Linked DNA regions of Homo sapiens: region 2 is linked to region 1. The links come from fine-mapping of genetic effects on gene expression. Tissue or cell type: esophagus mucosa. Region 1 holds a variant in brackets; the other region holds the start of a gene. All regions are shown on one strand. Distances are between the middles of the regions.

Region 1 (5,000 bases):
TCCAAGAATTGCTGTCAATTCTTACTGAGATCAAAAGTGGTCCTTGGATTTGGGCCTGGTTGGAAGGATCTGCGCCACCTGTTCTTGCCTCTCATCTCTCACTTAGTTTATCTGAGCCACCTCCATTTATTTCTGTAACTTTATCTTATGTAAAAATCATTTGAAATGCCTCACATATTTCAAGAGACATTAAATATTTACAGTTGTTTATCAGAGTGTAGACAGCAGAGGGGTTTTCAGCTTTTGTCAAACTTAAATTTTATTTCTGAAGTCGTGTTTTACATTGCTTACTTCTTTTCATTTTTGAGATGATTGTTCCTAAAATTTTGTTCAGTTTATATTTTGAGTTGGGGTTGGGTGGGTAAATCTTCTAAAGAATAAATAAGGCTATAGATATTTCCTAGATGGATTAATTTTGTTAATCTCTCAATTTATTAAAAAAAAGTGTACTGTAGAAGGAACATATAAGCATCCTAGGTTTTTGGACAGTGAGCACATATACATTTTAAAAATATTTTTCTCTGCTACTAGTGATATCACACGTTACCTTTACACACACAGGCACACACACACACGCAGTCTATTAAACTTTAAAAGTACGAAACAGTATACTGTAACCCCCTTCCCCAGCCACTCAGTTTCTCTCTTTGGAGGCAATCAGTATTTCCAGTTTAAAGTGACAAGTACCATGGTTTTCTTTCTTCACCTTTGCTATTAAAGTTTAAAATTAAAACTGCTCTCTCACCAAAACCCTCTGGAAATATTCTCATAAGGTTCCTAGCCTCCTAATTGGTAAATCTCACTCATGCTATAAGCACCTCTTCTTTGTTTTTTCAAAAGTTGGATTTTTTTTTTTTTTTTTTGAAATGGAGTCTCAGTCTGTTGCTAGGCTGGAGTGCAGTGGTGCGATCTCGGCTCACTGCAACCTCCGTCTCCCGTGTTCAAGTGATTCTCCTGTCTCAGCCTCCCGAGTAGCTGGGACTACAGGCATGCGCCACTATGCCCAGCTAATTTTTGTATTTTTAGTAGAGATGGGGTTTCACCATGTTGGCCAGGATGGTCTTGATCTCTTGACCTTGTGATCCGCCTGCCTCGGCCTCCCAAAATGCTGGGATTACAGGCATGAGCCACTGCGCCCAGCCAAAAGTTGGATTTTTTTTTAATGCGAGGGGTCTTCTCAAAGTAGTTTTGTGTGCTCCTGTGTTACATCCTTCCCTTCTCAGCCTTAGCATCCTTCTCCTAGGCCATACTTCCCCATCAGCCTTTTCCTGAGCAATCTACCTATTTCCATGGGCCTAGGATTCCCAAATCTTGCTTTGTAACCCAGCCTGACATTTCTCTGCCTTTTATGTAGGTTGTGTAAACCATTTCCGTTTGTTGTGATTGTAGATGTAGCTGGGCTTAAATCTGCCCTCATGATGTTTCTTTTCTGTTTGTCACATCTGTTCTTTGTTCTCCGTTTCCTCTTTCTCTGCCTTTTGGATTGAATAATTTCTATCATTCTCTTTCATCTCCCCTGTTAGCTTATTAGCTATACTTACCTGTTTTGTTTCTTGTTAAAGTTGTTACTTTAGGATTTATGTTATATATTTTTAATATCATCAAATAATATTATGCCAGTTTCATATAGTGAGATTTACAGAAGTATACTTCCATTTTCCCTTCCCAACCTCTCTACTATTTTTTCATACGTCTTCTGTATATCATAAACCATGTAGTACATTGTTAATACTTTAGCTTTAAACAGCCATCTATCTTTTTTTTCTCTTGGTAACAATTTTATGAACATATAACTTATATACCATATCATTCACCCGTGTAAAGTGTACAATTCAATGGTTTTTATTCACAGAATTGTGAATTTAATAAACTGTGCAGTTATCAGCACAGTTAATTTTAGAACATTTTCATCACTCCAAAAAGAATCCTCTTTAGCAAATATTATCCACCCCCTCTGCCACCTGCCCCATTTCTCTCAATATTCCCCAGCCTATAAATGTGCCTGTTTGGGGCATTTTATATAAATAGGATTA[A/T]ACAATATGAGGCCCACTGTGCTCGCTGGTCCCAGACCCACCTCTCTCACCTGGACCCCAGCCAGGGCTCCCCACTGTCCCCCCTGCTTCAACCCTGATTTCCCTGTGATCTGTAGATCCTCAGTGCAGCAGCCAGATGGGATCCTCTTGCTGTTCTTTTTCTATTTCCTGGCTTCTCTGTTGGTACCACCATTCATTGCAAGTTAGAGAAATCTGACATTGTTCATAAATTCGTTCTTTTTCAGTCTGTATCTAACTTGTCACCTAGTTGACCTAGTGCCTATTTCTTCTTCTTTAGTATTTCTGGGCTCACTCACTTCCCCGCGTCTGTTGTCTTGGTTCCCTTCATCCCGTTTGTTATCCCCTGGGCAATTGCAGTAGCCTCTTAACTTGTCGCCTTGCTTCTCCTCTCTCCTACTCCTGTTCCATTCTCCATATGGCTTCCAATTGCCTTTGCAAGGTCCATGTCTAATCACATCAGTGGCCTGATTATTTCCACTCAGTGCACACAAACCAGACTCTTAGCCAGGCTTGGAGAGCCCATTGTTTTTCGTTTTCAGTTTTGTTTTGTTTTTTTTGGCAGAATCTCACTCCATCACCCAGGCTGGAGTGCAATGGCATGATCTTGGCTCACTGCAACCTCCACCTCTTGGGTTCCTGCCTCAGCCTCCTGAGCAGCTGGGACTACAGGCACCCACCACAACGCCCAGCTAATTTTTGTATTTTTAATAGAGAAGGGGTTTCGCCATGTTGGCTGTGCTGGTCTCGAACTCCTGATCTCAAATGATCCACCCACCTCTGCCTCCCAAAGTGCTAGGATTACAGGCATGAGCCACTGCACCTGGTTTTGTTCTCAACCTTTCTACTCTTCTCTAGATAAGACAATCTGAGACCTATAGGACAGAACCACACTATTTGACTGTGTTTTCCTATACTTCCGTCCCCTCAGACAAGCTATTTATTTGGCCTTAAATTGCTTTTTCTCTGCCCAGTGAACTCCTGCTTATTCCTCAAAGCCCCATTTAGATGGCCCTTTCTGACAAGCCTCTTCTGATGCTTTCTCCAAGCATATTCGTCACTCCTTCTTCTCAGGTTTCATTTTACCTTATAACACACTCAGTTATAGCCTGGGCCTCTCTGTGTGCTTACTACTTGTTTTCACTTCTCGCATTCATGGAAAGGACTTTATCTTATCATTTTAGTTTCCCTGATTCTGCTCCAAGGGCCCATATGGGGTTGGTACTTATATTTTATGAAAAGTTATCCTATACAATAATTGACTTGATTGTGAAGAGGTTGTACTATATAGCGATTGATCATTTATCTAGCCTAGGAACTATTTCATCTACCTACCTCTCCTGCTAAAAATGTAATATTTGGTATTTCATTTCAGATGTGAGATGGAAAAACAAATTCTGGGGCAAATCCATGGAAATTGTTCCAATTGGCACAACCCATGTGACTCTGCCAGTGTAAGTTCTTCTTCTGTGGTTAAGGAGCTTTATGGAATTTAGGGCCAAGATTTTGCTTTGGGGACAGGATGCCCACCCCCGCCCCCGGCAGTTGCATTGAGTGTGTATTTTTTCTTTTAATCTGTCTGACAGTAGGTTTAAATGTTCCTCCTTTTGGCAAGCTCACTTTTAAAAAATGTTTCTCCCTCAAATGGAAATGCCTCCTGGAGACCAAAGTTCCCTGAATAGATGCTTATTAAAAACTCATTTCCACTTCCTAACAAGATTAAGAATGGTGGTTTTAGCTGGGCGCAGTGGCTCACATCTGTAATCCCAGCACTTTGGGAGGCCAAGGCGGGCAGATTGCTTAAGTCCAGGAGTTTGAGACCAGTATGGGCAACATGACAAGACCCTGTCTCTAGAAAAAATACAAAAATTAGCCAGGCATAGTGGTGGCACGCACCTGTAGTCCCAGCTACTCAGGAGGCTGAGGTGGGAGGATCATTTGAGCCTGGGGAGGTTGAGGCTACAGTGAGCTGTGATCGTGCCACTGCACTCCAGCCTGGGTGAAGGGGTGAGACCCTATCTCAATTTTTTTAAAAAAAGTGTTTTTCCTTTATTATGCTGCTTTGCTATCAAAATCCCTTTTAAGAAAAGTATGGCCTTGATCTGATAGGGATGATTGATACTTATTTATAAAGCAAGATGCTTCTGAGCAGGGACTCTGAAACTGGACTGCCGAGATTCACCTGCTCACTCTGGCACTTACTAACAGCGAATCCCTGGGCAAGTTACTTCACCTTTCTCATCACCAGTTTCCCCATCTAGAAAAAGAGAATAATAAACCACCTACTTCCTAGGGCTATTGTGAAGATTAAACAGATAATATACATGAAACACCTAAAATAGTACTTAGCACATTGCATATGTTTTGTAAGTATCTGGTCTTATTATTAATACCATTTTCCTCGTAATTATTGAATTCCATAAGTAATATCTGAATACTTTCTCATCACAAAGGATGCAGGCAATGTATGTTTAGCAGATTGTATAAAACCTTCATCCCTTTCTCAAGCTTCCCTTTCCTAGTTCAGCAACATTAGACAAGCCCCTCTGGCTCTGAATTGCCTCCTCTGTCAAAGGAGGGAGTGGGCTGTTCCAAGAGACCACCAGCTTCTAGTGAAGCCTCTGGTAGCTTCCAGAGTGCAAAGTCTGAATGCTGTCATTCTCTGTGGCATGCATGCCTCCTTGGAGAGTGGAAGCTCCTAGAACATCCAGTGTGACATAGACACTTAGCCAGTGTTGCTTCTGTGAATAAAGAGATGAATAATGCATTGCATGACTTATTTTATAAAAGAGCAGAGTTTGTTTGCATTTGCTGCTGGCTCTTCTAGAAATTGGTACTTCTACTTTTTCCTTCTTTTTAGTTTTGGGGATCATTTTGAGTGGAACAAAGTGACCTCTTGCATCCATAACATCTTAAGCGGGCAGAGGTGGATTGAGCACTATGGAGAGA
Region 2 (6,136 bases), 160 kb before region 1:
AAGAGGAGACTTAGCCTCTGACCATTCATAGGCTGTATGATTATGGTCAAGACACTAGCAACTTTCTGGGCCTTGCTCCGCCACCCCTTCATAAAAGAAGTTGATGAAGTGATAAACAATAGTTCCTCCTCACTTGTAATCATATCAGAAGACTGACACTATTAGGGATCTTAAAGTTCATCTAGCCCCAGAATGGCAATTCAGCATTATCTTACATGCTGATCTTGGCCTATCAGTGGCAGCTTCTCGCAGTGTTGAGAACGATTCTGAGGCTCTATTTGGACTTAGCGGATAAGGCAGCCTTGACTGCCATAATGATGTCTGCTACAAGGCGGGAGGAAAGTGGCAGCAAATAAGTCAAGATGTGTCATCCCTAATTTAGCCCAATGCCTTCTCTTCACAGGAAAAAAAATGAGACCAGAAGCTTTTGAGTCTTTTGAGTTTACCATGTGCCAGGCACTATGCAAATTGCTTTTACATTCACAATTGTATTTAATCCTTAGACAACTTTAAGAAGTTAGCATTATTATCATTCCTATTTTACAGATGAGGCTTAAGAAAACAAAATTTGCCTGAGGTTCACACCTTAGAAACCCATATCCATAAGCATTTCCCTATATCGCCTCCTGCAGGCACGTACTATGTGTTATGCCAGTGGTTCTCATCAGGGGGGATTTTGCCCTCCAGAGGACTTCTGGCAAAAGTCTGGAGATTTTTTGTTGTTACAACTGGGGAGGACAGGGTGTTCCTTGAATCTAGTAGGTGGAGGCCAGAGATGCTGCTAAATGCACAAGACAGCACCCCCCCAACCTTTACCTCCAGCAGGAAAGAATTATCTCCCTAAAATGTTAATAGAGCTGAGGTTGAGAACTCTGCACTAGACTATGCGGAAATTGTTTGCAAATGGATGATCAAACTCTTCCTGTAGTCCAGCAGCTACATAAATATCTCCATTTTACAGACAAGGAAAGGTGATTGCAGAATCAGGTGGTCATCACAAGACAGGAACTGAGGTAGTCTGATTCTAGAGGCCCTCAGTTTCCTTTACTATCAAAACATGCAAACTCAAGTAGCACCCGCTTACCTATTACCAATTTCAGAAGCTAAGACCACTGTGTCACATGTGAAAAATTCCCACTGTGGTGGGCTTGTCTCCAAAGAGAAAAATTATTTGTTCAACAGTTCAAAGAAGAGGGTCTCTAGGAACTCTTAATATGGAACCACTGGTCTTTATTAGACATTCAAATCGTTATTTTAAAATAAGACGCTGAGGAGAAAGCTGATTTTAGAACATTAACAAACTTTTTCAAGAATAATTAGCTCTGCGTGGGTTTCAACTTTTATTTTTATTTTTTCCTTTTGATTTTAGGAGCTGGAGAGCCTGGAAGTTTATTTAGGAGTAGAAGAGGAAATGAAACTATGAAAAGCCACAGTACGATTCCTCCTTTACTTGGAGACAAGGCACAATGTGAATAATTCTCTCATCCTGTCCAATTAACTGCCTCAAGTACACACACACACACACACACACACACACACACACACACACACACAGAGAGAGAGAGAGAGAGAGAGAATGTACACTCTATTATTATTTGATTAGGAAGACATTAATGAAAAAGCTCGGAACGGGATGCTAAACAACAAAGCCCTATGCAAATCACTTCCTTTCGGATTGAAGGCTTGTCTCCTACAGAAAAACCAATGCTAAAGAAACAGGCGGAGAGGCTGAAGGTGGAGAGCAAAAGAAAAAGAAAGAAAATAGCTTGAACGAGGAAAGGGACTGGCAGGAGGAGGACAGAGCAAGCCTCTCTCAGAGAGAAATTACAGAAAGACGGAAGGAGGTTTGGGAAAACCCAGTCTAAGCTGCTCCGACGGCGGGGCTGGGCGTGGGCAAGGTGCCTCCTTGGACGGTCCGCGCGCCTGCCAGACGCGTCCTTCCACTACCCGTCCAGCCACCTGGCGCTGGTCGGGCTTTGCGAGGTGGTTTAGGAACCGCGGAGTCATTCGATTTGAAATCTTCTCCAATAAGCTTCTCCGTGTGCCGACGTGGGCAGCATGACAGTGGATTTGCTCGGCAGCATCTCTGGCGCCTCCCGCCCTCGCCCGCCGCCTGCCAGATCCGAAACAGACAGTCCCAGACATTTCGCGAGGGGGATGGTTCCAGAAAGCGAAGATCTGAGCGTGGTGAATGAAATGTGAACAGAATAGCTCCGGAAAGAGTCTCAGAAACCTTGAATTGGGGTCAGTTTGGAGACTGAAAATGCGTCGAGCGCTGCAGGTGGTGGTTGGCAGGGGGATTTAACACTGTGGAGCCCTTACTCCGTCCCAGGCGCTGAGCCCAGCGAGCCACGCGCGGTGCCCAGCTCGGTGAGGTCGGTTAGTTGGGTCTTCAGGGAGGCTAAATACCCTGTATTTGCTATTCCCTTCGCCTGGAACGCTCTGTGCGAGACTGGGTGTGGCAGCTCCTTTCCCAGGCTCAGGAATCTGGGTAAAAGCCACCCTCGCCTAGAGGCCCTCAGGGTGAGCGCCCCATCACGCGCTAAACCACTTTCGAAAGTGGACTTGGCCCTCCTCTCAGTACTAACAGTCTGTCAGCCTTTTATTTTTTGCATAGATATGTATTTTCTCTTCTTTATTGTCTGTCTTTCCACAAAAAATGCAAGCCCCGTGAGTACTGGAGCCTGGTGCGCCTTTCTCACAGTTGCAAGCTCGCAACTGCTCCTGGCATATACTAGGTGCTCACTAAATGCTCATGCCCTTCCCACCCGCCACCTGCGGCACTCGACACATTTGCAGTCTGCAAACTGACCCCAAACCATCAGCTGCTTGCATTCGTCCTAGGATCAAAGAAGGCCATTGGGCTAGTGGGAAGTCAAGTCGGGTGGACTTTTCCGTCTTTCAGGGAGATTTAATAGTAACGACGGTGCTCTCCCCACCTCCTACCCCCTTGCACATAAACTGCACAGAACAAAATCACCCCGGCACGAATCTGCACGACTGCCTCTGGAGGTAGGGTCACGGTCTCCGAGCCCCGGGTCTCACACTGATGCTGTCCTTTGTCATCTCGTGCCTAGAGTGCTGCCTCCCTATGTATTTCCTCTGTTCTCGACTCCTCTGCCACAGTCTGACTTTCTCGGGAGGTCGAGTTCTCCTAGCCTGTGCGACCGCAAGGGTCCCCTGGAGCCTTCTCCGTAAACCTGCCCCTCCCGCGCTGCCCTCACTTTTTCCTCCTTCCCTGGCCCGGAAAAGCCACTAGAGGAACATTTACCGAACGCCTACCGCGCGCAGGCACCGAGCTGGGCCACCGGGAGCCCCACCCAGTGCCTCGCCGCAGGACTCGCCTCCCTCCGCCCTCCCAACCCATCCGGAATCCGGGGTCCCTAGTTCCCCCGCCGCGTCATGGAATCCGCTGGCTTCTTCCGAGGACATCGCCCCACCTCCTTCCCGAAAGGCGACTTCTGATTGGTGAGATTGTGCATCACTCTGCCGCCCTCCCGCCCCCTCGGGGCCCCGCCCCTGGGCCTCTCAGGCCCCTCCCCTGCGCTCCCGCCCTTGCGCGGCTCCTCGGGCTAATCGCCGGGCGGCGCGCGCCGAGAAGTTCTGGGCAAAGTACTCAGAACTGGCCGCGTGCTGGTGGCGCCCGCCAGCCGGCCCGGGAGAGGGGACTTGAGCGCTTCGCGGCCGGTGCGCAGCGCGGCTCCGGCCCCGCAGTCTGTCTGCAAGTGGCCATCCCCGCCCCCGACTCCTGCGGCCGGTGCGGGAGCTGTCAGCTGCACGTTGCGGGGGTACCGGAGAAGCCGGGGTTGCCTTCTCCCGGTTCTGTGCGCTAACCCCGGAGCCCGGCCCCGGGGAACTAGGGAGCGTCTCCGGCTGCACAGCGCTCAGGTGAGTGGCGGGGCGCCCGCCTAAATGGGGCCTGGGTGTCGGGGGGCCTGGCGGCGGCGCGGGCTCGGAAGGGCTGCTGTTTGCGGGGCGCCGCGGTTCTCTGCCGGACCGGGGTCTGTCCGAGTCGCCCGGGGAGGCTCCGGCCCTGGGGCAGACCCAAGCCTGGGAGCTTGGGTGCCGGCTGCAGCTCCCGGGGAAGGAGGACCCGGGTCTCACCCACCCCAGGACACCTTCCCTCGAGGGACGGCTCAGAGGATTGACCGCCAGGAGGAGCCGAGCGCAGGGGCCGCGGCGCAGGTGCGGGAGGACGCGGCGCGCGGAGCTGTCCTGGGCAGCGGGGAGGCGCTACGCCGGGGCTAGAGGCTCAGGAAGCCTGGTAAATTGGGGCGAGCGCGAAGCTTTACCACATCCGCGGGATGGGGCGCGCCGGAGAGACTGAGACAACGCTCGCGGGGCAGGCGCTCCGCTCGCCCGCCTTCCCAACCCCGGCTTGCTCAGCTCCCCGGTGCTGGGCTGGAGGCCCAGGGCACATTCCTTTCTTGTCTGAATTTACATATTCATCAGCTTTCTGGCCCCTTCTGGAATTTTTTTTTTTTGTTAGTTTCCAATTACTACTGTTCAGATCACCTTCAGGCTCACCCTAACTCTCGTCTCAGTGTCTCTCACATTGGTCCTTTCCTGGAGGCCCTGCAGCGTCTTAGTTCAGGGTCTTAGGGACTTATGCACTCTGTCTGAACGTTGTCTACAGTTGGGTTTTCCTACCTCTGTCTCTGTTTATTCCGTGGTCAGGTAAATTCTTTAAGTACTGTCATCATAAGCCAGAAACTCCCAGGCAGCCTCTTAGCGCTGCCCAGCTTCCCGGGGAGCGTTTGTGGCCTCTGGAGTCGCTGATGGGCACTGTCGCAGGTCGTCCAGATACTTCTTAAGCAGGGGCGCGCCGCCCTTCCTTCGGCAACGCAACTTGCTTGCTGCCTTCTGCACACTTGTGCTTGTCCTTCTCCGCCTCACAAGCCACCAGTCTCCTCAGTCGGGACTCTTGGAGCTGAGGGGACTGTGAAGTTGTCGGTTTCCATGTGTCTGCGTACTGCGCAGAGGTGCTTGAGACCCCCTAGGTGTTGCTCTGACCCTCAGAGTTTGAGTATTGGGATGAGGGCATTTAGAAATATTTTAAACTACAGCTGCAAAAGAGATACTTCCACAGATGGGTGAAAGCGAAGGCCTGGCTTCTCATCATCTGCACTGTACCCCGCAAGTATCATACAAGGTGAGGTCCTTGGCTAAAGGACTATACTTGGCTAAAGGAGATCAGTCAAGCAGGCCTAGGTTCTTATGCATCCAAGCTAAATGACCATCCCCTCCAGCCAAGCCACATCACCCGTTTGCTGTTGCTCATAGCACTTAAATTTCTCTCTGAAATTGTCTCTTTGGGTTATTGGGTTATCTGCCTTCCCTCATTAGGATGTAAGTACCAGGAATGCAGAGACCTTGTCTGTCTTGTTCATCACTTGATCCCCTGTGTCAAGAACACGCAGTAGGTTTGCAGTAAACATTTATAGAATGAATAAATGAAACCTTCTCTGTAAATATGAGGAATGAGGATTTCATAGCTGATTTTGATTTTCATCTTTATCCTTTTTTTACTGTTGGGAAAATTAACAAATAGCAATACTAGGAACTTTTGTACATTACCGCATTAAACTTACAGAAGTCTGTTAGCTAGGTATTTTTAACCAGATGGGAAATTGAGGGTCCAGCAGGTTAACCTGTGTTGCCAAGGTTATCCTGGCAGAACTAGGATTCCAGCCCATTTTGTCTCTATTGTGCTTGACCTCTTCGAATAAACTAAAATGTGGTTTCCACCATTAGTTAATAGGCATTTAGCTTTATTTGTATCAAAAGCTATGGCTTAGCCAAAAGATTTACTGTTTTATTATTGAGATATATTTTCAGTAATCGTTAATAGTTACATCATAAGCCAGATACTCCCAGGCTGCAGTAAGCTGTAATTTTCTTTTTTCTTTTCTTTTTTTGAGACGTAGTCTCACGCTGTCGCCCAGGCTGGAGTACAGTGGCGCGATCTCGGCTCACTGCAAACTCCGCCTCCCGGGTTCATGCCATTCTCCTGCCTCAGCCTCCCGGGTGGCTGGGACTACAGGCGCCCGTCACCACGACCGGCTAATTTTTTGTATTTTTAGTAGAGACGGGGTTTCACCGTGTTAGCCAGGGTGGTCTCGATCTCCTGACCTTG

Direction of the effects. Positions count from the first base shown, and alleles are read on the strand shown. Sizes are in standard deviations (SD) of each study's normalised expression.
As copies of A replace T in region 1, the expression in esophagus mucosa of the gene that starts at base 3,596 in region 2 goes up (small effect, 0.19 SD a copy in GTEx).

What was found. PIP is the estimated chance that this variant, and not a neighbour inherited with it, causes the effect.
Region 2: it holds the start of OSBPL3, and the variant in region 1 is fine-mapped to the expression of OSBPL3 in esophagus mucosa (GTEx, PIP above 0.99).

Annotation. Positions count from the first base shown.
Region 1 is chr7:24,815,115-24,820,114 of GRCh38, reverse strand. OSBPL3 (oxysterol binding protein like 3) reads left to right here. Exons shown (of 23, transcript NM_015550.4): 18 at 3,427-3,505; 19 at 4,912-5,000. Among named protein-coding and RNA genes, the nearest start is that of GSDME, 60 kb to the right of the region's middle. The variant A/T (reference allele first, on the strand shown) is at 2,034.
Region 2 is chr7:24,977,638-24,983,773 of GRCh38, reverse strand. It overlaps OSBPL3 (oxysterol binding protein like 3), which reads left to right and starts at 3,596. Exons shown (of 23, transcript NM_015550.4): 1 at 3,596-3,888. RefSeq lists an enhancer at 2,127-2,296 and silencers at 3,437-3,946, 3,997-4,206.